3 separate regions of the Homo sapiens genome follow, and regions 2 and 3 are each linked to region 1. The links come from fine-mapping of genetic effects on gene expression. A gene starts in region 1. Each other region holds a variant in brackets. All regions are shown on one strand. Distances are from middle to middle. Region 1 holds the start of AKR1A1 (aldo-keto reductase family 1 member A1). Region 2 overlaps LRRC41 (leucine rich repeat containing 41). Region 3 overlaps AKR1A1 (aldo-keto reductase family 1 member A1).

What was found. PIP is the estimated chance that this variant, and not a neighbour inherited with it, causes the effect.
Region 2: its variant is the best candidate, but not a certain one, in a credible set for the expression of AKR1A1 in whole blood (TOPMed, PIP 0.88).
Region 3: its variant is the best candidate, but not a certain one, in a credible set for the expression of AKR1A1 in cerebellum (GTEx, PIP 0.83).

The regions. Positions count from the first base shown.
Region 1 is chr1:45,547,136-45,555,604 of GRCh38, reverse strand. It overlaps AKR1A1 (aldo-keto reductase family 1 member A1), which reads right to left and starts at 4,779. Exons shown (of 9, transcript NM_153326.3): 1 at 4,450-4,779. RefSeq lists enhancers at 4,307-4,526, 4,757-4,986, 5,037-5,096.
Region 2 is chr1:46,279,049-46,287,517 of GRCh38, reverse strand. LRRC41 (leucine rich repeat containing 41) reads left to right here. Exons shown (of 10, transcript NM_006369.5): 4 at 1,019-2,156; 5 at 6,133-6,393; 6 at 6,958-7,122; 7 at 7,228-7,326; 8 at 7,904-8,026; 9 at 8,261-8,336; 10 at 8,434-8,469. Among named protein-coding and RNA genes, the nearest start is that of LRRC41, 20 kb to the left of the region's middle. RefSeq lists an enhancer at 1,610-2,234. The variant A/C (reference allele first, on the strand shown) is at 3,675.
Region 3 is chr1:45,568,259-45,576,727 of GRCh38, reverse strand. It overlaps AKR1A1 (aldo-keto reductase family 1 member A1), which reads right to left. Exons shown (of 9, transcript NM_153326.3): 6 at 8,044-8,243; 7 at 7,729-7,801; 8 at 7,499-7,585; 9 at 6,679-6,837. The coding sequence ends at 6,772. Among named protein-coding and RNA genes, the nearest start is that of NASP, 12 kb to the left of the region's middle. The variant A/C (reference allele first, on the strand shown) is at 3,323.

The DNA.
Region 1 (8,469 bases):
TGCATAAACCTAAGTACATCTTCCTGTATATTTTAATCAACTCTAAATACTTATAATTCCTAATACAATATAAATGCTAAATGCTAGGTAAATAGGTGTTATAATTTTTTTTTTTTTTAGACACAGTTTCACTCTTGTTGCCCAGGCTGGAATGCAACGGCGCAATGTCGGCTCACCGCAACCTCCGCCTCCTGGGTTCAAGTGATTCTCCTGCCTCAGACTCCCGAGTAGCTGGGATTACAGGCATGCGCCACCACGCCTGGCTAATTTTGTATTTTTAGTAGAGACAGGGTTTCTCCATGTTGGTCAGGCTGGTCTCGAACTCCCGACCTCAGGTGATCCACCCACCTTGGCCTCCCAAAATGCTGGGATTACAGGCGTGAGCTACCACGCCCGGCCTATACTGTATTTTTTTATTTGAATTTTTAAAGTTGGTTTTTGTTCCCAAGTATTTTTGATTCTAGGTTGAATCCGCAGATGCACAACTTGTGGATAGAGTGTTGACTTTGTACTCTATCTCACCAAAAGACCAAAGCCCTGGATAACAAGTGTTAAAGCAAACCAGACAACATGTTGATAGTATAATCCATTTGGGCCTTAAAAAAAAACATCTGGTTGCGTGTGGTGGCTCATGCCTGTTAATCCCAGCACTTTGGGAGGCTGAGGCAAGCAGATTGCTTGAGTCCAGGAGTTCGAGACCAGCCTGGGGGACATGGCAAAACTTAATCTCTACAAAAAATATGAAAATTAGCCAGGCATAGTGATGTGTCTCTATGGTCCTAGCTACTCAGGGGGCTGAGGCAGGAGGATCCCTTGAGCCTGGGGGGCAGAGGTTGCAATGAGCTGAAATCACACCACTGCACTCCAGCTTGGGCCACAGACTGAAACCCTGTCTAAAAAATAAATAAATAAAAGCCATCTAAAGAAAGTATTTGTAGTTCCTTGCAGGCATTTATGAGTATTATCAGATTATGGTTTTGATAAGTAGTTGGTGAGGAGAGTATTTTCTCCTGTACTTTTCTTTTTGAGACAGGGTCTCACTCTGTTGCCCAGGCTGGAGTGCAGTGGCCCATTCATGGCTCATTGCAGCTTCGAACTCCTGGACTGGAGCAATCCCGAGTAGCTGGGACTACAGGCACATGTCACCACACCCAGCTTATTTATTTACTTATTTATTGAGACAGAGTCTCGCTCTAACGTCCAGGCTGGAGGGCAGTGGTGTGATCTCAGCTCACTGCAAACTCCACCTCCCAAGCTCAAGCTATCCTTTCCATTCAGCCTCCCAGGTAGCTGGGACTAGAAGCATGGGCCACGATGTCCAGCTCATTTTTTGTGTTTTTCGTAGAGACAGGGTTTCTCCTTGTTGCCCAGGCTGGTCTGAAACTCCTGGGCTCAAGTGGTCCTTCTGCCTCAGCCTCCCAAAGTGCTGGGATTATAAGTGTGAGCCACTATGCCTGGCCTTATTTTTCTTTTGTAGAGATAGGGTCTCACTGTGTTGCCCCCTCAAACTTCTAGCCTCAAGTGACCCTCCCACCTTGGCCTCCTAAAGTGCTGGGATTACAGGTGTGAGCCACCACACCTGGCTTTCTCCTATACTTCTTTTTTTTTTTGAGACGGAGTCTCGCTCTGTCACCCAGGCTGGAGGGCAGTGGCGTGATCTCGGCTCACTGCAAGCTCCGCCTCCCGGGTTCATGCCATTCTCCTGCCTCAGCCTCCCGAGTAGCTGGGACTACAGGTGCCCGCTACCATGCCCAGCTAATTTTTTTGTATTTTTTAGTAGAGACAGGGTTTCACCATGTTAACCAGGATGGTCTCGATCTCCTGACCTCGTGATCCGCCCACCTCAGCCTCCCAAAGTGCTGGGATTACAGGCATGAGCCACCACACCCGGCCTCTCCTATACTTCTAGAAAAGCCAGCTTGGAAAATCACCTTACATATGTAATGTTGGCCAGATTTTGTCAGTTTAGCTGGGTTTTAAATCTTGTTAATACTTAATAGCTACAGAAAAAGAGAATGCTCTAATATGTAACCTAAGACCTAAGATTGCAATAATGCTTCCTGTACTTCTTGATGTATGTGAAAAGAATTTTAAAATATATATTCCTAAATCTTTCTCTAGTCCATCCATATCTACCTCCACTGCCACTGCCCCATCTCTGACCACCACCACTCTTTTTTTTTTGAGACAGAGTCTCGCTCTGTCGCCAGGCTGGAGTACAGTGGTGTGATCTCGGCTCACTACAACCTTCGCCTTCCAGGTTCAACCGATTCTCCTGCCTCAGCCTCCCCAGTAGTTGGGACTACAGGCGCATGCCACCACACCCAGCTAATTTTTGTATTTTTAGTAGAGACGGGGTTTCACCATGTTGGCCAGGATGGTCTCCATCTCTTGACCTCGTGATCTGCCCGCCTCAGCCTCCCGAAGTGCTGGTATTATAGGCATAAGCCACTGTGCCCAGCCTTTTTAAATTTTTTTTTGAGACAGAGTCTCACTCTGTTGCCCAGGCTGGAATGCAGTGGCATGATCTCGGCTCACTGCAATCTCTGCTTCCCGGGTTCAAGTGATTCTCCTGCCTCAGCCTCCCCAGTAGCTGGGATTATAGGTGTGTGCCACCACACCCAGCTACTTTTTGTATTTTTAGTACGGAGAGGGTTTCACCATGTTGGCCAGGCTGGTCTCGAACTCCTGACCTCAGGTGATCCACCCACCTTGGCCTCCCAAAGTGCTGGGATTACAGGCATGAGCCACTGTGCCCAGCTGACCATCACTCTTTACTTAAACCACAGATCTTGGCTTCCAGAGTGGTCCCTCTTCCCGCAGTCCATCACCAGATCCAACCATGTGACTCCCAGTCTCAAACCCTTCCAGCAATTCTCCCCTATATTCAGGATAAAGTCCAGGCTTCTCAAAACCTGGCTTCTATCTTTCTCATTTCACCACCTCCTCATGTCAGACTGTATTCCAGACTTTGAACACTCAACAGGGTCACATCACTTACCTGACTCTAGGTGTGTGCACTTTCCTTCCCCAAACCCTACCTTTGCCTGGCTAGCTGCTGCTCATCCTTCAGCTAGCACTTCACATTTCTGGCTCCTTTCCAGGTGCAGTGGCTCATACATGTAATCTCAGCACCTGGGCAGGCTGAGGCGGGAGGATCACTTGAAACCTGGGCAACAAAAGGAAACACTGTCTCTACAAAAATTTGTTTTTTTCTTTCTGAGTCTGCTTGCTAGGGGGAATTTTTTTTTTTTTATTTTAAAGATTAACTGGGCACAGTGGCATGTAGTTTATAGTCCAAAGGCTGAGGTGGCAGGATTATTTGAGCCCAGAAGTTTGAGGCTGCACTGAGCAAGGATTCCACCACTACACTCCAGCATGGGCAAAAGACCGAGAGACCCCCATCCATCTCTAAAAAGAAAATAAATAAATAAATAAATGGATGGCTACTTCCATGTACTGATAGCATGTGCACATCACTACATTTTTCTGTTTATATATAAATTTCCCCCACAAACCTGGCTACTCCTTGAGGTCTGAGCCTGTCATCTGCCTGAACCCCTCACTCCTAGAGTACCTGTCCCATACATACATACATACATACATACATACATACATACATACAATGTACACAATACACACACCACACACACACAGCTTATGGGGGAGAGATCTTGACAGGTTGAGTTTGGCCAGCTGGAAGGACATTTGAGGAAGTCGCTGCCTCTGTCACCTTCTTCCTTTACCTGTTGGAAAACCTGAAAAGAATCCTCTTGGAGAATATCAAAGCACTTTACTATACTCGGCAAAAAATCCCAGTGGACCAGATAGAATCATACTGAGATTGCTCCTGTATTAAAGATAAGGAAACAGATCTTGGAAAAGTAACAGGCCTGCAGCCCTGAGTATGAACGATCTGAAGGGGAAGAGTTAATTAACAGTAGCCTCATCCAGTGAAGGTTCAGATCTGTGTCTTACTTTAACAGAGTTCTGGGGCAACAGAATAACATGTCAGACTTTCTCAGACCCAAAGCAGGTGTCTAAGTAAGAGAATTATCCCCACTTCTCCCCACTTCTGAGAACTATCCCTGCACCTGCATAAGAAAGCCGGAGCAGCTGGAAAAAGCACATAGGTGAGCAAACAAAAAGATGGCAATTAAAACTTGCAGATCACCTAGTATGCGCTGTGCGCCTTCAAAGCTTTATCTCAATTCTTGCTACAGTTCTAATGTAGGACCTCATTTTATTGCTGAGGAAACAGGTTCAGAGAAACTGGGAAGTTAGCAAGAGATCATACAGAGAAAAAGAAGAGCTCAAATCCGAAACCAAGTCTCGTCCCCTCCAGTGCTCTGCGCTCTCCACTCAACCCCAGGGGCTTACATTTCAGTAGTAAAGAATCGAGGCCATCTCCTCCGGGAGAAAGATAGGCCAGCAGCAAGAGAAACTCACCTTGGCACAAGCACAGAGCGTGAATAGGGTACTGTGGCCTGGGCTCAGTTCTGCACCCCGCCAGAGATCCAACGATCCTCAGCTTAAGTCTGGCGGTGAGGGGGAAGTTCCACCCGGAGGGAGGGGCAGGGGCCGGGCATAAAGGATCACGCGCAGGGTGGACCGCCTTCGCCGCCTCCCGAGGAAGGACCTGAAGGGGATGGAAAACAGAGCTGGGAGGTAGTACCGTCTCCACCTCTGGATCCTCGAGGTCGAACTGGCCGGAACTTGGTCACTCACTCCGCAGCGCGGGTTTGGAGAACTCCTGGGCACAATGAGGCAGGTGGCGCTGGCCACGTGGGCGGTGCAAGGGGCGGGGCCAGCCTCGCCTTTTGCTGGCCCACATTGCACCGCGCGCCTAGGCGCCGCCGCAGGCGCTTTTCCGGGGGAAGTAAGGTAGCAGATGCCACGTTGCAGGTTCTTCTGGTGTCGGCCCTCCGGATTCACAATGCCATCCGTGGCTCCATACTCTCCCTAAAGTCAGGTTGGCTGGATTCCCAAAGTTCACCTAAGTTGGCCCCGTTACATTTAGTTCAAGCAAACTGAGGCCCAGAGAGCAGCTGCAACACCAAGATTGGCCAGAATACAGAAGACCTCGCGTCTGCAGATCCAGGCGCTGGAAAGTGCCTGGTCCCCCTGTCTGGACCATAGACCCCGCCCAGCACGTTATGTGCCAGGCACTGTGCTTAACACTTAATAAACATGGTTTTATTGAATCTTCATAATAATCCTGGAAAAGGAATATTCCTTTTTTTTTTTTTTTTTTGAGACGGAATCTCGCTCTCGCCCAGGCTGGAGTGCAGTGGCGCGATCTTGGCTCACTGCAACCTCCGCCTCCCTGGTTCAAGCAATTCTCTGCCTCAGCCTCCCGAGTAGCTGGGATTACAGGCGCCCGATACCACGCCTGGCTAATTTTTTTGTATTTTTTAGTAGAGACGGGGTTTCGCCATCTTGGCCAGGCTGGTCTTGAACTCCTGACCTCGTGATCCACCCGCCCTGGACTCCCAAAGTGCTGGGATTACAGGAGTGAGCCACTGCGCCTGGCCGAAAAGGAATATTCTTTTATTTCGTACAAGCCTTTTTAAAAATCGTAGTATAGCATATATACAGAAAATACACCAGTCTTTTTTTTTTTCTTTTTCTTTTTTTCCTATTCTACATCCAGGAAGAAAGAAAATGTATAAATCTTAAATGTATACAGTTCTTTTTTTTAAATTATTTTTTGCAATGTAACTGCCATCCAGAGGAAGATATTACCAGCACACCATAAGCCTGTGAGGAAAGTATTCATAATCCATTTTACAGATTGGACAGACTCAGCAAGGTTAAGGCTATTTATAATTTTCCCAAAGTCACACAGGTATTAATTAAATGACACATCTGCGATTTGAAATAGTCTGTGCTGTTTGAGTGGAGAGGTGTCTTGCATGTATGTGTTTTCCTTGGCAGGGATGGGCAAGACACAGGGTTATCTCGGTTTGGCTCTGCTTTTCCCCACACCTTTACTCCCTGAGAGCAACTCTTCCCATTTCCCCACCCCCGTTATCCCCCACTGTCTCCCCAACATAAGTGATGTCCTGGTGGACCAAATGTCTAATGTATCAGGCCATCCTCATAAAAACAATCAGACTTGGCCGGGTGCGGTGGCTCACGCCTGTAATTCCAGCACTCTGGGAGGCCGAGGCAGGCGGATCACCTGAGGTCAGGAGTTAGAGACCAGCCTGACCAACATGGAGAATCCCCGTCTCTATTAAAAATACAAAATTAGCCGGGCGTGGTGGCACATGCCTGTAATCCCAGCTACTCGGGAGGCTGAGGCAGGAGAATTGCTTGAACCTGGGAGGCGGAGGTTGTGGTGAGCTGAGATTGCGCCATTGCGCTCCAGCCTGGGCAACAAGAGTGAAACTCCATCTCAAAAAAAAAAAAAAAAAAAATTCAGCTAGGCGTCGTGGCGCGCACCTGTAGTCCCAGATACTCAGGACGCTGAGGCAGGAGAATCGCTTGAACCCGGGAGGCGGAGGTTTCAGTGAGCCGAGATCGAGCCACTGCACTCTAGCCTCTTGACAAAGCGAGACTGCCCCTCAAAAAAAAAAAAAAAAAAAAAAAAAAAAAAAAATTAGCTGGATGTATTGATGCGAGCCTGTAATCCCAGCTACTTGGGAGCCTGAGGCAACAGAATCACTTGAACCAGGGAGGCGGAGGTTGCAGTGAGCTGAGATCGCGCCACTGCACTCCAGCCTGTATTCAAAAAAAAATAAAATAGGCCAGGCATGGTGGCTCACGCCTGTAATCCCAGCACTTTGGGAGGCCGAGGTAGGCAGATCACCTGAGGTGAGGAGTTCGAGACCAGCCTGACCAACATGGAGAACCCCCATCTCTACTAAAAATACAAAATTAGCCAGGTGAGGTGGCACATCCCTGTAATCCCAGCTACTCAGGAGGCTGAGGCAGAAGAATCACTTGAACCCAGGAGGCAGAGGTTGCGTTTGGCAAGATTGTGCCATTGCACTCTAGCCTGGGCAGCAAGAGCAAAACTCTGTCTCAAAAAAAAAGGGGCCGGGCGCAGTAGCTCACGCCTGTAATCCCAGCACAAGGCGGGCAGATCACGAGGTCAAGAGTTCGAGACCAGCCTGGCCAATATGGTGAAACCCCGTCTTTACTAAAAATACAAAAATTAGCTGGGCATGGTGGCACGCGCCTGCAGTCCCAGCTACTCAGGAGGTTGAGGGAGGAGAATCGCCTGAACCCAGGAGGCAGAGGTTGCAGTGAGCCGCACCACTACACTCCAGCCTGGGTGACAGAGCAAGTCTCCGTCTCAAAAAAAAAAAAATACGTAAAAGAAGAACCTACAGGCCAGGCACAGTAGCTCATGGCTGTAATCCCGGCACTGTGGAAGACTAAGAAGGGAGGATCACTTGAGCCTAGTAGTTCAAGACCAGCCTGGGCAATATAGTGAAACCTCATCTCTACAAAAAATATAAAAATTAGCTGGGCACGGTGGTGCACACCTATAGTCCCAGGTGTTTAGGAGACTGAAGTGGGAGGATTGCTGGAGCCCAGGTCTTCGAGGCTGTAGTGTGTCATGATTGTGCCATTCTACTCCAGCCTAGACAACAGAGCAAAACCTTGTCTCTTTTTTTTTTTCCCCTCAAATTCTTTTTACCAAGGACCCTGTCTAAAAACAAACAGGCCAGGTGTGGTGGCTCACACCCGTAATCCCAGGACTTTGGGAGACCGAGGCGGGCCAATCACCTGAGGTCAGGAGTTCGAGGCCAGCCTGGCCAACATGGTGAAATCCCATCAATACTAAAAATACAAAAATTAGCTGGGCATGGTGGCAGGTGCCTGTAATCCCAGCTACTTGAGAGGCTGAGGCAGGAGAATTGCTTGAACCTGGGAGGCAGAGGTTGCAGTGAGCCGAGATGGTGCCACTGCACTCCAGTCTGGGCGACAGAGCAAGACTCCATCTCAAAAATAAATAATAATTTTTAAAAAACAAAAAAACAGAAGTGAGCAAATAAGAATATAAGAACAACCACTTTATTGAGCATCCACTACTTACCATAGTCTTTATATTCATGTTGTCTGATATCCACAGCAGAAACTTTTGGATTTGGTGGACATGAAGATCATTGGTGACCAATGTGGAGAGCTCCTTCAGTGGAATGGTTAATCCTGAGCCAGATGACCTGAATTCAGGAATGAACAGGAGATGAAGACATGGAGAATCAGAGGAAGGACTTCTCAAGGATACAGTAAAGGCCAGGGACAGTGGCTCATGCCTGTAATCCCAGCACTTTGGGAGGCCAAGGCAGGCAGATCACTTGAACCCAGGGGTTCTCAAGATCAGCCTGGGCAACATGGTGAAATCCCATCTCTACAAAAAATACAAAAATTAGCTGGGTATGGTAGCATGCACCTGTGTTCTCAGCTACTTGGGAAGCTGAGGTGGGAGGATCACCTGAGCCTGGGAGGCCAAGG
Region 2 (8,469 bases), 730 kb before region 1:
TGTAATTAGTGTTTTACAACACTACTTTGGGGACAGGGAAAGCAATCAGGAAGCTAGTGGTCAGGTGTGAGGTGATAAGGGGCTGGTGGTGGTAAGAATCAGAAGTTGGAGGCCAGGCGTGGTGGCTCACGCCTGTAATCCCAGCACTTTGGGAGGCCGAGGCGGGCGGATCATGAGGTCAGGAGATCGAGACCATCCTGGCTAACAGGGTGAAACCCCATCTCTACTAAAAATACAAAAAATTAGCCTGGCGTGGTGGCGGGTGCCTGTAGTCCCAGCTACTCGGGAGGCTGAGGCAGGTGAATGGTGTGAACCCGGGCGGCAGAGCTTGCAGTGTGCCGAGATCACGCCACTGGACTCCAGCCTGGGCGACAGAGTGAGACTCCGTCTAAAAAAAAATGAAGTTGGGATAAGGGGCTAGGTGCGGTGACTCACACCTGTAATCCTAGCACTTTGGGAGGCCAAGGCGGACGGAACACTTGAGGTCTAGAGTTCAAGACCAGCCTGGTCAATATGATGAAACATACAAAAATTAGCCAGGTGTGGTGGCGGGCGCCTGTAATCCCAGCTTCTCTGGAGGCTGAGGCACGAGAATCACTTGAACCTGGGAGGCAGAGGTTGCAGTGAGCTGAGATCACACCACTGCACTCCAGCCTAGGCTACAAAGTGAGACTCTATCTTAAAAAGAAAAAAAAAATTGGGATAAGGTTCTAGAAACAAACATGGAAGAACTTACAGGGGTGAGTGTTTCAGTGGAGACACTATAATAAAAGCATGGTCTCTGGAACCAGATTTCCAGGGTTCAAATAATCCAACCACTTACCTGTGTGGCCACCTCTTTGTGCCTCGGTTTTACCTGTAAAATAGGGCTAATAATAATACATACCTCAGAGATGTGAAGATTAAATGAATTTGTAGTGTTGCCTGACTCAGTAAATAGTGTGCTATTGGAAGAGAGGGAAATTTGGACAGTTTCATGGATATATCATGGCTGTCTGGCATGTTTTCTGCGTTTCAGAGTGTGACATGTTGGCGAGCCAAGTTTATGGAGGCCTTTTTTTCCCATGTTCTACGTGGGACCATTGATGTGTCTTCTGACAGGCGTCTTTGTGATCAGCGGTTCTCACCTCTTCTGCACAGCTCCCGCCATGTCCGACAGCTCACCATCTGTAACATGCTGCAGGGTGCAACCGAGCTGGTGGCTGAGCCCAACCGCAGGGTTCTGGAGACCCTGGCCAGCTCCCTGCACACTCTCAAGTTCCGCCACCTGCTGTTCTCTGATGTGGCTGCTCAGCAGTCACTTCGGCAGCTGTTGCATCAGCTCATTCACCATGGGGCTGTCAGTCAAGTGTCGCTATACTCCTGGCCTGTGCCTGAGTCAGCCCTTTTCATCCTTATTCTCACCATGAGTGCTGGCTTCTGGCAACCAGGGCCTGGTGGCCCACCCTGCCGCCTCTGTGGAGAGGCCTCCCGAGGCCGGGCCCCATCCCGAGATGAAGGGTCCCTCTTATTGGGCTCACGTCGGCCCCGCCGGGATGCTGCTGAGCGATGTGCTGCAGCCCTGATGGCCAGCCGGCGTAAGAGTGAAGCCAAGCAGATGCCCAGAGCTGCACCTGCCACTCGGGTAACACGCCGGAGCACACAGGAGAGCCTGACAGCAGGCGGAACAGACCTTAAGAGGGAGCTGCACCCCCCAGCCACCTCCCATGAGGCTCCTGGCACCAAGCGGTCACCTTCTGCTCCAGCAGCCACCTCCTCTGCCTCTTCTTCTACATCCTCATACAAACGGGCACCAGCTAGCTCAGCCCCACAGCCTAAGCCCCTAAAGCGTTTCAAGCGAGCTGCAGGGAAGAAGGGTGCTCGCACCCGTCAGGGGCCTGGTGCAGAGTCTGAAGACCTGTATGACTTCGTTTTTATTGTGGCTGGCGAGAAGGAGGATGGCGAAGAGATGGAGATTGGGGAAGTGGCTTGTGGAGCTTTGGATGGATCAGATCCCAGCTGCCTGGGGCTTCCAGCACTGGAAGCTTCACAAAGATTCCGCAGCATCTCCACCTTGGAGCTATTCACAGTTCCACTCTCCACAGAGGCAGCCCTGACACTATGCCACCTGCTGAGCTCCTGGGTGTCACTGGAGAGCCTCACACTCTCCTACAATGGTGAGCACCCTGGAGTGGCAGGGATTGGGCTTAGATTGCCTAGCAGCACCAGCTGTGTGCCTAATTCTAGGGAGGTGGGAGGGGCAAATTGGGGGTATGATCAGGAGGTTAGAGAGGAAGGCTTGTATGCCTCATAGCAGGGGAGACTGTCATTGCTAGAAGAGAGGAACATAAAGTCTATACACTTGATTAGTTGTTGAAAGCAGGGGTTCCTGAGGGGCAGTGAGACAAGCCAGCTGGAATCTGAAGAATGAATACATTTTAGATATGGAAGGCAGTCCAAGGGCAGGTGGGAGCAGTATAGTATATGCATGCTCAGGCAGGGCTAGAGTTTGACCTCACCACCTCACCAGTCATATCAGAGTAGCTGTCCAGACAAGGTGTGGGACACAATTTCTTATCAGACCAACAACCTGCAAAGCAGTCCTCAGTCCTCATTTCCCTCCTGCTTGTGACCAGCTAGCAAAACCTCAACTCTGGCTAAATCCAGCAATCCGCCTAGGTTGCTGAGCACTGCTAGAGACAAATCATACAACTATGCAAATCAGTGTTACTATATGATCACTAACCTCGTATGAACCTTCACTGTGCTTGCAACATCAGCTCCCATTCCTACCACTTCCAAACTCTCCTTTTCCCTTCTCAGGGATGACCTCACCTACTTCACAGAGAAAATAGAAGCCATCACACATGAGTTTCTTTAGCTTGCTAAGCAGCCTATAAACTCTCCATCTGCACTCATCCTTCTTTACCAGAATAGAAGAGACCACCATCCTTTCTAAGGCTAATTCTCCCACCTGTGCTCTAGATGCATAGAGCTTCACAACAAAGTATATAAAAATTACCAGTTTGAGAAACAAGCATTCTACCTTCTTAGGGAAGCTTGTTTCTCAAACTAATTTTTATATACTGCTTAGTATGTGTCTGGCATATTTTAAGTATTCTTGATAATTTGATCTAACAATCCTCACAACCCTATGAGGGCAAGTGACTTCCTCAGGATAACCTAGCAATTATAGAGCTAGGATTCAAAACCCAGGCAACCAGACTGCAGATTCATGCTTTCAAACAACTATGCTACTCTCCTTTCCACCGTCTCTCTCCTATCAGCATTTTAACAGGTCTCCATCAAAAACTGCCACCACCACCTCCCTCTATGCCATATTAATAAACTGTTATCTCCTGTTCTTCACAACCTTAGTTATCTGTACTGTTTCCACTTCTCTTACTCACAGCCCCTTCCAGCCTCTTATACCCCTACCACTGCACTGGCAAGGACCTATGTCATCAGGGTCCTCCTTGTTACTAGATCCAATGTATACTTTTCAGTAACTCTTCTTGGCAGGATTTACTGCTGTTCATTAAATTTTTTTTCACTACCTTAAAAAATGTTTTCTTGGCCGGGCGCAGTGGCTCACGCCCGTAATCCCAGCACTTTGGGAGGTCAAGGTGGGTGGATCACGAGGTCAGGAGTTCAAGACCAGCCTGGCCAAGATGGTGAAACCCCATCTCTACTAA[A/C]AATACAAAAATTAGCCAGGCGTGATGGTGGGCGCCTGTAATCCCAGCTACTCAGTGACTGGAGATCGTGCCACTGCACTACTGCACTTTAACCTGGGCAACAGAGTGAGACTCCATCTCAAAAAAAAAAAAAAAGTTTTCTCCTCCTCTGTTTATTCAGAGTTCCTCAGAGCTTTCCCACTTTATGCACGCTTCTTGGACAATTTCATCCATTCCTGTGGTTTCAAAGGCCAACTATGCTAAAGACTCCCCATTATGTGACATTACCCCAGATCTTTCTCTTGAACTTCCAGACCCATTTATCCAGCTAGTAGACATGACAACTTCATAACCCACAATACCCCACCCAACTCATTACATCCAACTTGAATGCATTTTTATATTTTTAGTAAGGACAGGGTTTCCCCATATAGGCCGGGCTGGTCTCGAACTCTTGGCCTCAAGTGATCCACCAACCTCGGCCTCCTACAGTGCTGAGATTATAGTCATGAGCCATTAAGCCCAGCCCTATCTTTACAATTTGTTAAATACATTTATTTCTCTATCTCCACATCCTTAATTCAAGCTACCATTACCCACTACCTGAACTAATTTCAGTAGTTCCTCCGGACTCCTTACTCTTGCCATACAAATCCATTATCTGCACTGCAGCCCAAGCATCCTTTGAAAAATGCAGTCTTGATTCTTTAAAAAAATCAGTCAAAAATGACCCTGTCATTCATTTATGCAAACACCCTTCAATGGCTTAATTTTACTTAGTGGTCATTCATATTCTTACTCCTGGTTATCTCTATAGTTGTATCTTTTTTTTTTTTTTTTTTGACAGGGAGTCTCTGTTGTCACCCAGGCTGGAGTGCAATGGTGCAATCTTGGCTTACTGCAACCTCCGCCTCTCGGGTCCAAGCAATTCTACTGACTCAGTAGCTGGGATTACAGGCACATGCCACCATGCCCAGCTAATTTTTGTATTTTTAGTAGAGACGGGGTTTCACTATGTTGGCCAGGCTGGTCTTGGGCTCCCGACCTCAGGTGATCTGCCTACCTCAGCCTCCCAAAGTGCTGGGATTATATAGGTGTGAGCCACCACACCTGGCCTATAGTTGTATCTTGAATGCTTCCCCCCTTCACACTCTCACACCAGCCATTATGAAATTTTTTTGTTCTCCTTCAGGCCTCTACATATGCCAAGTTGCCTCTGCCACAATCATTCTTCCTAAATTTTAGCCTGTCCCCTTTATGTTCTTTAGGACTTAGCTGGAGTGCCTTTACTGATGTAAGCTGGACTAGGTACTCATCCTTTGTAATTTCATAGTACTTTATTCCCCCAGTTCCCATCGCATTATCAAGCTATGTAAGAAAAAAAAGCAATGTGCTGCTCACTAGTGTCTAGCAAAAAACTTGATATTTAGTAGGCACTGGGTAGTTGAATGAATGAACAGGAGCCTGCATAGTCCAAGGAATTATTTGCCTGTGGCATTAAGCAACCAACCTTCCTGGATCCTAGTCCATGCTGTGGGATTTGGTTATCTTTTCCTGCCCCATTCCCACCCATTGATTCTTTTAAGTATCCCAGTTGGGTCACTGTCACTCTCCATAGTTTTTAGGTGCTCCCTATTGCGTCTAGGTTAAACCATCCCTTTGCCTTTCCATAATGTGGCCTCCAGTGCCCTGCCCTCTAGAGCTGTTTCCTGAGCCTCATGTAGCCAAACAAGCAAGCGTCTCATTCATGCCTTGCACTCTCCTAGCTGTGATTTTTTTTTTTTTTTTGAGACAGTCTTGCTTTTTCACCTAAGCCGGAGTGCAGTGGCGTGATCTCAGCTCACTGCAACCTCCGTCTCCTGGGTTCAAGTGATTCTCCTGCCTCAGCCTCCCGAGTAGCTGGGACTACAGGCATGTGCCACCCAGCCCAGCTAATTTCTGTATTTTTAGTAGAGACAGGGTTTCACCATGTTGGCCAGGCTGGTCTGGAACTCCTGGCCTCAAGTGATCTGCCCACCTTGGCCTCCCAAAGTGCTGGGATTACAGGCGTGAGCCACCGCTCCCGGCTAGCTGGGACTCTTGACTATGTCTTCTCCCTCTATCCAAAACTTCCTTCCTTCAAGGCCAGTTTCTTCAGAAAACTACTCAGAACCCAGAAATCCAGAGAACTGCTACTGTCTGTGCCTGTCATTCAGCTAGTAGCCACATGCTGCCTCACCATATTGTATCTTCTCAATTTTGTGACTCTGCCCTGACTGGTGCTTCTTGTGGGCATAACCCAAAACAGCAGACCTCAGTTTGCTGGTTACCTAAGGAAAAAGCAAGACATGGATGAGTAGTTAAGACAAATGGGTTTAAATAAGCTGAGCCAAAGCCCAAGAGATTTGCTAGTAACCAAAAGTATTTGGAGTTGTATTTGAATATATTACCCCTGCTGACACTCCCACATGGTTCTGACTTAATCTCTTTCTTGCCATAGGCCTGGGCTCTAACATCTTCCGCCTGCTAGACAGCCTGCGGGCCCTGTCAGGCCAGGCTGGATGTCGCCTCCGTGCCCTGCATCTCAGTGACCTGTTCTCACCACTGCCCATCCTGGAGCTGACACGTGCTATCGTGCGAGCACTGCCCCTGCTACGGGTCCTCTCTATTCGTGTTGACCACCCAAGCCAGCGGGACAACCCTGGTGTGCCAGGGAATGCAGGGCCCCCTAGCCACATAATAGGCGATGAGGAGATACCAGGTGAAGCACTGTGTGTGTGTTTGTGTGTGTGCACGCACGTGTATCCCCACACAAAGGTGCAGATGCATTCGTATGGGGAAAGGGGAAGGACCTCTTCTATCACTCATTCCTGGCTTATCTGGAACCTATCCCCCCTTTAGAGCCTACCACTAAGATACTCTTGAGCTAGACAGGGCCTAAACCACCATAAGACCAGCAGAGAGTGACCAAGGCAGCTTGGTCTCCAGAAAAGGAAAAGAACTGATCTTTAGACTGGATTAGTTCCCCTGCTGTATGTTCCCTTAGTTCTTGTATGTCTCCTATCCCACCACTCTGCATACTTTATTTGCTTGTGTCTGGGTAGCCTGTCTTCCTGGTCTAAAATTTCTACAAGGGCAAGGACTAAATCTCATATTTAGTGCTCAATTCCTAGAATCTAGCACAGTGCTGACATATGGTAGGCACTCAACGACAAGTGAATGAATAAATAATTTTTTAGATGAATCCCTTAAGAACAGGATGGGACCTGCTATGGGAGTGAGGTAGAGATGGCCAGCTGGAATCTTCTTTCCCCACCATATCCAGAAAACTGCCTGGAGCAGTTGGAGATGGGATTTCCACGGGGAGCCCAGCCAGCCCCACTGCTGTGCTCCGTTCTGAAGGCCTCGGGTTCTCTGCAGCAGCTGTCCCTGGATAGTGCCACCTTTGCCTCTCCCCAGGATTTTGGGCTTGTTTTGCAAACACTCAAAGGTAGGACCCAGCCAGAATGGTGAAGGGAGAGGAGTAGGTGGGGACCTAGCACTGTTCTCTAGGAAAGCTAAGGTCCATGGTCCATGGTCTCTGCCTCCTATCCAGAGTACAACCTAGCCCTGAAAAGACTGAGCTTCCATGACATGAATCTCGCTGACTGTCAGAGCGAGGTGCTCTTTTTGCTACAGAATCTGACTCTGCAAGGTAAGTTCCTTATTCAGAACCTGGACATTTCCTGGGTCTTCACTATGGTTCTGCCATAATCTGAGTGAGCAAACCACTGTTCCTTTCTTGGCCTTGTGTCCTCAGCTATAAAATGGATATAGAACCTGCATGATTTTCCTTCTAAAAGCCCCAACCTCAATTCCTCCTCTACTAAACATGAGAAATCGCTCTTTTAGAGTGCTTCACCCAAAAGTTGCTCTTACCTTTCAGAGGTGGACAAAATGGTGGTGGTGGGGCAAAATAAATGTACTGTGCCAGGCTCCCCTCATAGACTTTTCTCTGATCCCCACCCCCGCATAGAGGGTGGCCAGTGTTAGGGAAAGAAGGAAGTGAATGGAGAATTGTCCATGCAGAGAACCTTCTTATAGGGAACATTTAGGTTCAGTCTTTAGTTTGGATTCTGATTTAGTTCCAGCCTTGCTTGGAGTCTAGACAAATTCCTTCCTCTTTTTGGGCCTCTATAATGTTAATACCCCTTGCTAGGGCCAACTGGGGCAGGAGGGGCAGCACCAGTCCTAATGCAGCCATCAGAATTTACTATAATTTTTCTTGACAGAGATTACCTTCTCCTTCTGCCGTCTGTTTGAGAAGCGCCCAGCCCAATTTCTGCCTGAGATGGTTGCTGCTATGAAGGGCAACTCCACACTGAAGGGCCTCCGGCTGCCAGGGAACCGCCTGGGTGGGGGCCAGACCCTGGGGAGGGAGAGGGGAAAGGAGCTAGGCCTTTGACCTAAAAACTCACTGGATAAAGGCAAAGACCTCTCCACTGGGAACGTGGGAGTTGGAATACAGATATTTCTGTGCTGGGGCTTCAGGAACCAGCAGGGCTGGTTCTGCCAGCCATAGTTGGGTTGGGATACCCTTGTCCCCTGTTCTTGGGTGGAGGTGATAGGCGTTCTCCCCTTCTCTCCAGGGAATGCTGGCCTGCTGGCCTTGGCAGATGTTTTCTCAGAGGATTCATCCTCCTCTCTCTGTCAGCTGGACATCAGGTACATGAGGGGAGGGGCAAGACAAGGGATGGGGCTACAGAGATATAGACCAGGAATTCACTGCTTCCTGGATATCTAATCCATCTCACCCTACCAGTTCCAACTGCATCAAGCCAGATGGGCTTCTGGAGTT
Region 3 (8,469 bases), 21 kb before region 1:
AACACACGTGCTCTACAAACAATTTGTGCAGTTAACGCAATCATCACAGGGTCCTGAGGCAACATACATCCTTCTCAGCTTACGAAGATGACGGAATTAAGAGATTAAAGACAGGCATAGGAAATCACAAGGGTATTGATTGGGGAAGTGAAAAGTGTCCATGAAATCTTCACAATTTATGTTCAGAGATTGAAGTAAAGACAGGCATAAGAAATTATAAAAGTATTAATTTGGGGAACTAATAAATGTCCATGAAATCTTCACAATTTATGTTCTTCTGCCGTGGCTTCAGCCGGTCCCTCCATTCGGGGTTCCTGACTTCCCACAACACAGGCTGGAGTGCAATGGCATGATCTCAGCTCGCTGCAACCTCCACCTCCCGGGTTCAAGCAATTCTCCTGCCTCATCCTCCCAAGTAGCTGGGATTACAGGTGCCTGCCACCACGCCTGGCTAATTTTTGTATTTTTAGTAGAGATGGCGTTTCACCATGTTGGCCAGGCTGATCTTGAACTCCTGACCTCAGGTGATCTGCCCACCTCGGCCTCCCAAAGTGCTGGAATTACAGGCATGAGCCACTGCACCCAGCCTCTGTGAGTATTTTTAACTTGTGGTAATATAGTTGTTTGCATCAGTGCAGTAAGAATCCATTTTCTTTTGCAACAGGATGCAACTGGAGAAACTGGTTGTTTTACCAAGGCTTTGAGTGCAAGGGTATGCTTCCCTTTAAGCAGTCAAGCTCGAGTTGCAGAGCCAAAAAAATCCCCTTGGGGAGAAAACTGGCTTCATACCCTTGCCTACACAGTCCCTGTACAGGGTTCCTGACCTGTGGTCAGTAAAGAATGTCACTTTCCTTTTTTTTTTTGAGACAGAGTCTTGCTCTGTCGCCCAGACTGGCGTGCAGTGGCATGATCTTGGCTCACTGCAGCCTCTGCCTCCCAGGTTCAAGCTATTCTCCTGCCTCAGCCTCCTGAGTAGCTGGGACTACAGGCATGTGGCACCACACCCGGCTAATTTTTTTTTTTTTTGTATTTTTGGCAGAGATGGGGTTTCACCATGTTAGCCAGGATGGTCTGGATCTCCTGACCTCGTGATCCGCCTGCCTTGGCCTCCCAAAGTGCTGGGATTACAGGTGTGAGCCACCATGCCCAGCCAAGAGTGTCACTTTCTAACTGGCCCAGAGTTCCAAGTTTATCTTGGGACCTTAAGAGAAGAGGAGCACTCAACTCACAGGTATTTAAGGATACAGACCCATGGCTGGGCTCGGCTTTAAAAGGTCTTCTCTAAGAGTCCTTGTGGAAAAGAGTTGCATCAAAGCCAATCTAAAAGGCCTATGTAGAAATAGTTATTCTTGCTGCACTTTATGCAACTAATCAGGCCAAGTATAAGACTAAAGTCTATTTTGCAAACAACTCAGTCCTATCATGATTTTTTAACAGAAATGAGAACTGGTAACAAAAGAAAAATTGAAAAATAAAAATAAAAATAAATGAGAACTGCAGAGAAAGAAATTATGTTTCAAAACGTATACATTTGTCATTAAATTCTGTTTGTTTGTTTGTTTGTTTTTTGAGACAGTCTCGCTCTGTTGCCAGGCTGGAGTGCAGTGGTGCGATCTTGGCTCACTGCAACCTCCTCCTCCAGGGTTCAAGCAATCCTCCTGCCTCAGCCTCCTGAGTAGCTGGGACTACAGGCGTACACCACCATAGCTAATTTTTGTATTTTTAGTAGAGATGGGGTTTCACCATGTTGACTAGGATGGTCTCAATCTCTTGACCTCATGATCCACCTGCCTTGGCCTCCCAAAGTGCTGGGATTACAGGCGTGAGCCACCGCACCCGACTTCATTTGTCATTAAATTCTAAACTAATTAGTTGTTTTTAAGTCTTTGCCTGCATTTTAGACTAACCCTGCTTGTTCCTGTGAACCAACCAGCAATCTCCAGCTACAGCTCAGAAAGAACAAAAGGGATGGGTAATGTAGAAATCTGGATCAATATTCTTGTTCTGAGCAATTATACATCAAATCCTGCCAGGCAATGGGAATAAATAGGGTGCCCATCACCTGGGGGTTTCCTTTTTGGGAAAGCAAGACCAAGGGAGCTAACCAAAGCCAAGCACCATGCACCCAAATCCTAGCAAGCATAACTATAGCCACCAGTTATCTGGGTGTGTCACAAGACAACCTTTTCTTTCCCTTGTTGGGGGAGGACTCAATTCCACAGCTTCACTTTAGCATTTGGCTTATGATAAGGAGTCCGTGCAACTCCCTCCAAGACACATTTTTGTCTCAAACTCAATTCCAAGCTTTGGGTCAAAGCCCTAGGAAAGAAGACTGGATCTGAGGGATCCAGAGGCAGAAGATAATGGAAGTTAAAAGGCACAGCACAGGTGAGCGTGGCTGACTCCTGCCAATTAAGCTAAGCTTTCTGTTTCATGGATAAAAGTCATGCTAGTATCCATGGCGTAAATGAAGTCTAGGGAATTCACGGCTACTTACAGCAGGGGAGATAAGGCGTATGTGAGTAGAGTGAATAATTCCCTCCCCCAGCCCCGCTAGTTAACATGGGTAAAAGCCTCTTTAACACCCATGGGTGGCATGCTGTTGCATTCGCCAGGACTCAGGGATACAAGGATGGTGGAAAGAAAGAGGAATGCCTCACTTTCCCTCCCTCACATACCCCAGGTATTTGGTAGGAAGAGAAAGGAACTAGGGGCGCCTGCTTGCCCCTTTCTAGATGAGTAGCCATTCACCTTCAGTTTGTACTCCTTTTGAATGCATCTTGAACTCCTGGGACTCCTTTGAAAAAACACCTTTTTTTTCTCCCCTCAGATAATCCTCCAAATTGAGAAAGAGTTAATTTCCCGAACCTTAAACTGGCTAACTTAGAATTGGGCTCAGAGGAAGGGAACCCAGAAGCCTGACATGCCAGCAAAAGGGTAAAAGTTTTTTTTACCAATTGGGCTTTTGGCCTCCCTCTCCCCATACAAACTGGTAAAAGGCCTCATGATTTTTCACCTGTCCTTACCCTTGTTTTGGTTTGATACATGTTTTCTAATAACCCAGTTTGTCTCTTCTCAGCTTCAGGCCATCAAACTCCAAACAGACATGCAACCAGAGCCTTGGACAATGGCCCCTTCTGCAGGGGACCCTAATATAGGCCTCTGAGGGAGATCTGACTGCCGTCTTCCCAAAACAGCACCCCCTGTCAGCAGGAAGCAGTTAAGATTGGTCTTTGTCCTTAGCCTCACTCTAAGAGCAGTTAGATGTACTTCTTTAGACGGGGGAATGAGACAGCCAAGTATAAAGGGGTTCCCAGAGAAC[A/C]TCTGACTGGCCTGCGCACTGGGAGAATGGGGTGGAGCCATGGAAGTTCATGCTGTTTGCAGTGGGGAGGAGCCTGGCCCCTCCTGTTCCTGTGTGGAACCTGGGATTCAATCTGTGAGATGAGGGCCTGTTAACAGGAACCCCTCTCTTGCTTTGCTGTGTTGTTTTTCCTTTTTCCCCAATAAATTCCATCCCCCTCACCCCTCAAAGTTTCTGCGAGCCTAATCTTTCCTGTTCATGTGACAAGAACCTGGATTTTCCTACAACCACAGTGATTAGACAAAGATGTCTGTTGCTAATTTTTCAGGTAAGTTGTTAACAACAACAAAATAGACATTTGCTATAGAGAATGTTAATGTTAGGCAGGGTGAGATGTTTAAGTCAAGACTAATTTCTGAACAGTCTGGAAACGAAATAAAGTAATCCCATTTACAACAGCTACAAATAAAACCAAATATCTAGGAATGAGCTTAACCAAAGAAAAAATCTCTATAATGAAAACTATAAAACACTGACAAAATAAATTGAAGAGGACACAAAAAAATGGAAAGATATTCCATGTTCATGAATTGGAAGAATCAATATTGTTAAAATGTCCATACTACTGAAAGCAATCTACAGATTCAATGCAATCACTATCAAAATATCAATGACATTCTTTACAGAAATGGAAAAGACAATCATAAAATTTATATGGAACCACAAAAGACCCAGAATAGCCAAAGCTATACTAAGCAAAAAGAACAAAACTGAAGGAATCACATTATCTTACTTCAAATTTTGTTACAGAGCTATAGTAACCAAAACAGCATGGTACTGGCATAAAAACAGACATATAGACCAATGGAACAGAATAGAGGACTCAGAAACAAATCCACACACCTGCAGTGAACTCATTGTCAACAAACGTGCCAAGAACACATACTGGGGAAAAGACAGTCTCTTCAATAAATGGTGCTGGGAAAACAGGATATCCATATGCAGAAGAATGAAACTAGACCCCTATCTCTCACCATATACAAAAATTAAATCAAAATGAATTAAAGACTTAAATCTAAGACCTCGAAATATGAAACAACTGCAAGAAAACACCGGAGAAACTCTCCAGGACATTGATCTGTGTAAAAATTTCTTGAGTAATACCCCACAAGCACAGGCAACCAAAGTAAAAATGGACAAATGGGATCACATCTAGTTAAAAAGCTTCTGTACAGCAAAGGAAACAATCATTAAAGTGAAGAGATAACCCACAGAATGGGAGAAAATATTTGCAAACTATCTCTCTGACAAAGGATTAATAACCAGAGTATATAAGGAAGTCAAACAACTCTATGGGAAAAAATATAATCCAGTGAAAATACACAAAACATTTGAATAGACATTTCTCAAAAGAAGACATACAAATGGAAAACAGGCATATGAAAAGGTGCTCAACATCACGGATCATCAGAAAAATGCAAGTTAAAGCTACAATGAGATATCATCTCACCCCAGTTCAAACGGCTTTTATCCAAAAGACAGGCAATAACAAATGCTGGAGAGGATGTGGAGAAAAGAGAACCCTCAAACACTGTTGGTGGGAATGTAAATTAGTGCAACCACTATGGAGAACATTTTAGAGGTTTCTCAAAAAACTAAAAATAGAGCTACGATATGATCCAGCAATCTCACTGCTGAGTATATACCCAAAAGAAAGGAAATGAGTGTATCAGAGAGATCTGCACTTCCATGTTTGTTGCAGCACTGTTCACAAAGATTTGGAAGCGGCTGGGTGTAGTGGCTCACACGTGTAATCCCAACACTTTGGGAGGCCAAGAATTTAGGAGTCTTGAACCTAGGAGTTCAAAATCAGCCTGGGAGGGCTGACGCCTATAATCCCAGTACTTTGGGAGGCTGAGGCGGGCAGATCACTTGAGGTCAGGAGTTCAAGACCAGCCTGGCCAACACGGGGAAACCCCATCCCTACCAAAAATACAAAAAATTAGCCAGGTGTCATGGCGGGGACTTGTAATCCCAGCTACTCAGGAGGCTGAGGCAGGAGAATCGCTTGAACCAAGGAGGCGGAGGTTGCAGTGAGCCGAGATGGCGCCACTGCACTCCAGCCTGGGTGACAGAGCAAGACTCCATCACAAAACAAACAAACAAAAAACAGCCTGGGCAACATAAGGAGACCTAATCTCTATAAAAATTTAAAATTTTTGTATACTACAGCCTCGGTGACAGAGACCTCAATTCAAAAAATAAATAATAGAAATCTCAACAGTCTTTTAGGCCTTCCAATCATCAGTTCCTACCAATGCCAGCATTGTTTTATGCCATCGCCTCTACCACCAGGTCCCCCTTACTTTTAGTTGCTGTCCTACAAGTCTTCTTTAGGCTTTTCCAGCAGCGTCTTCCAGTTTCAAGACTTTTCCCTAAGCTGTCCAATTTGTATGGAATGCTGTTCCCACTCTTACCTCCTTTAACTAATTAATCCCTATTCATCTTTCAGATCTTAGCTGATTAAATAAGTAGGCTACTCGCCCTGCACTTCTCATAACACTTCTTCCGACTGTAATTAAACTAATTATGCAATTACTTAGTCTGTCTCCTCAAGTAGGCTGTAGGGACTTATGTGTCTTGGTTATAGCTATATCCCCAGGGCTTAGCATCATGCCTAACCCATAAGTACCCAATAAATACTTCTTGAACAAAGAGCAATGGTTTGGGAAAGTAAAGAGTTTCGTGTGACTGGAGGTTAGAGAGATTTGCCATAAACCTTCCTAAAACCTGTTTATCAGTGGTCTCTGGTGCCCACCAATAAAAAGTGCATAAGATAGGGCCTTAGGGGCCGAGTGACAAGGTCTGGGCAGGACTGTTGCCTCCTGCAGGTCACCTATGCACACTGACTATAGTGTCTGATGGAGAAAGCCCCTGTCCCCACCTTTTGTGATTTTGCAAGCTAGGATTCCCTAACTTCTTAATGTAAGTCGCTTGGACTCTTCAAATTACTAAACCTAGGCACTGGTCAGGACAGGGGGATGGAAACTTAAGGCCCAGGTCCAGCACTGCCTTGAAACCAACGGACAATCATTGCCCTGATCGCTCACTCCTGAGGTGGCCAATTTGAGGCATTCTTGAGAAGACTCCAGGGAAGCATGCAGTGCTTAAGATGTGCCAGTAGATGGCGCTACTTCCCAACGTGCCTAATGCAAGGATACAGAATTACTCAGCCTCCTCACAGGTTCCTCCAGAACCAGGATATGAATATTTGGGCTTCAAGGGCAGGTCACATCCAGCAGCCCGAGGTCTGTCATCCCTGAGGGAAACAGCCTCCATCTCAGGCCTGACCAGGCAAATAAGACAAGCAAGCAATATGGATGCTCCAATGGCTTTATTAACTCCCTCTTTCCGTTGTGGCAGGACCTCATTAGCTGCAGAGCTGGAAGGGAGGCCAAGAAGCTGTGGTCTCAGTACGGGTCATTAAAGGGGTACAGAGGATGCCCTGCATCCCTTGGGACTCTCTTCCCATCCACCTGGAAAGAGAGACAGATAGATTACTCCATCAGCAGGAGTTGCCATTCCAAAGACTCCAGGCATCTTCCCCAAATCTTCCTAAACAAACTCACCTGTGTACAGCACTATGCCAGATGGCATTGGCTGGGATCCCCATCCTCAGAGAACACCACAGTATCAACACCATTCTAGCACCAAACCCATAGCCTGATATGTAGCTACCCCTGCCCCTAAGAGTTTGCAGTCTGAACTGAGATCAAGAGGCCAGGAACCATTTATTTCCCTAAGTACAGCCGACTTCCCTCCCAACCCCAATCCCTCGAGTGAGGTCAACAACGCCTTCTGGGCTCTCCTCATATCATTTACTGAGAATCTACTACATGTCAGGAACTGGGCTCATTTTACACATAGGAAGCTGAGGCTTGGAGAAGTTTAATAACTTGCTCTAGGTTACAAGATATCAAGAAGCAGGACTGGGACTCACAGGTTATATGCCTTATCCCTGAGCCATACTACTTCCCTGAGCTCAATAAAGAGAAATGAGGGCACTATGTCCAGCATAGCAATCCCACCCACAACATTGTGTCCTTCTCACAACCAGCAAGCCTTAGGTCACACCTGGGCCAGAATCCCACCCCAAATCTCACATTCCCCAAGTCTAGGAGGCTGATACATCCTCACCGTAAGCATAGGCACAATATATCTCCAATTTTTGTTCAGGGCATTTAGCTGCTTCATCTCTTCTGGGCTAAAGGTGAAGTCAAACACCTGAGGATGGAGAGTGGGGTTCAAGAAAGCCAGCTTTGTGAGCAGAAGCTGGGGTTCCACAACACTGCCTTTTTAGCCAGGTAGAGTCAGGGCCAAGAAAATGTCCCAAAGAGCTAAAGAAGATAGAACCCATTACCAAGTACCTTGATGTTCTGAAGGATTCGAGAAGGAGTGATACTTTTGGGGATGCAGATCACTTTCCGCTGGACCTGCCACCTAAGTTGGGGGATTAGACAGATGAGGAAAAGGGGTCAGTATTCATAAGCACTATTTTGTTCCCCATGCAGCTTCCCTAAGCTCCTGGAGCACCTGAGCCCTGCTGAAATGGGAAATATGCCTACAGTGGCCTCCCTCCAGATCACAAGGCAAGATCCTCAGCCTCACCCAGACACTGAAATAAGAAATCCCTTAACCCTTGCCTCCCAACCCAGGGCCCTCTCCCTAAGACTGCCCCATACCTGAGCAAGATCTGAGCTGGAGATCGGCCATACTTTTCAGCCAATGCCAGGACTACTGGTTCCTCCAGCAGGACAGGCTCATCAGGATCACGCCATGCACGATCAGAGGAGCCCAAAGGGCTATAAGCAGTTACCTCCAGGCCACGTGCTTGGCAGTGGGCAATTAGCTCATTTTGAGCCAAGTATGGGTGGCATTCCACCTGAGCCAAAGAATAACCCATCACCATGAAGTGGTGACACCCAGCTTGCTTGGCCCATCCCAGACATGCATGTCTGGACCACCCCCTATTGCTGACTCCTCCACTCCCCTTCAGCCTGCTTTTCTCACCATTTCCCATCGGCAATTTCATTCTCTCCCACTGCTTCAATGCCCACCTTTATGCAGAGGACTTCTGCACCAACACTCTGACAACTTGCTAGCTATCT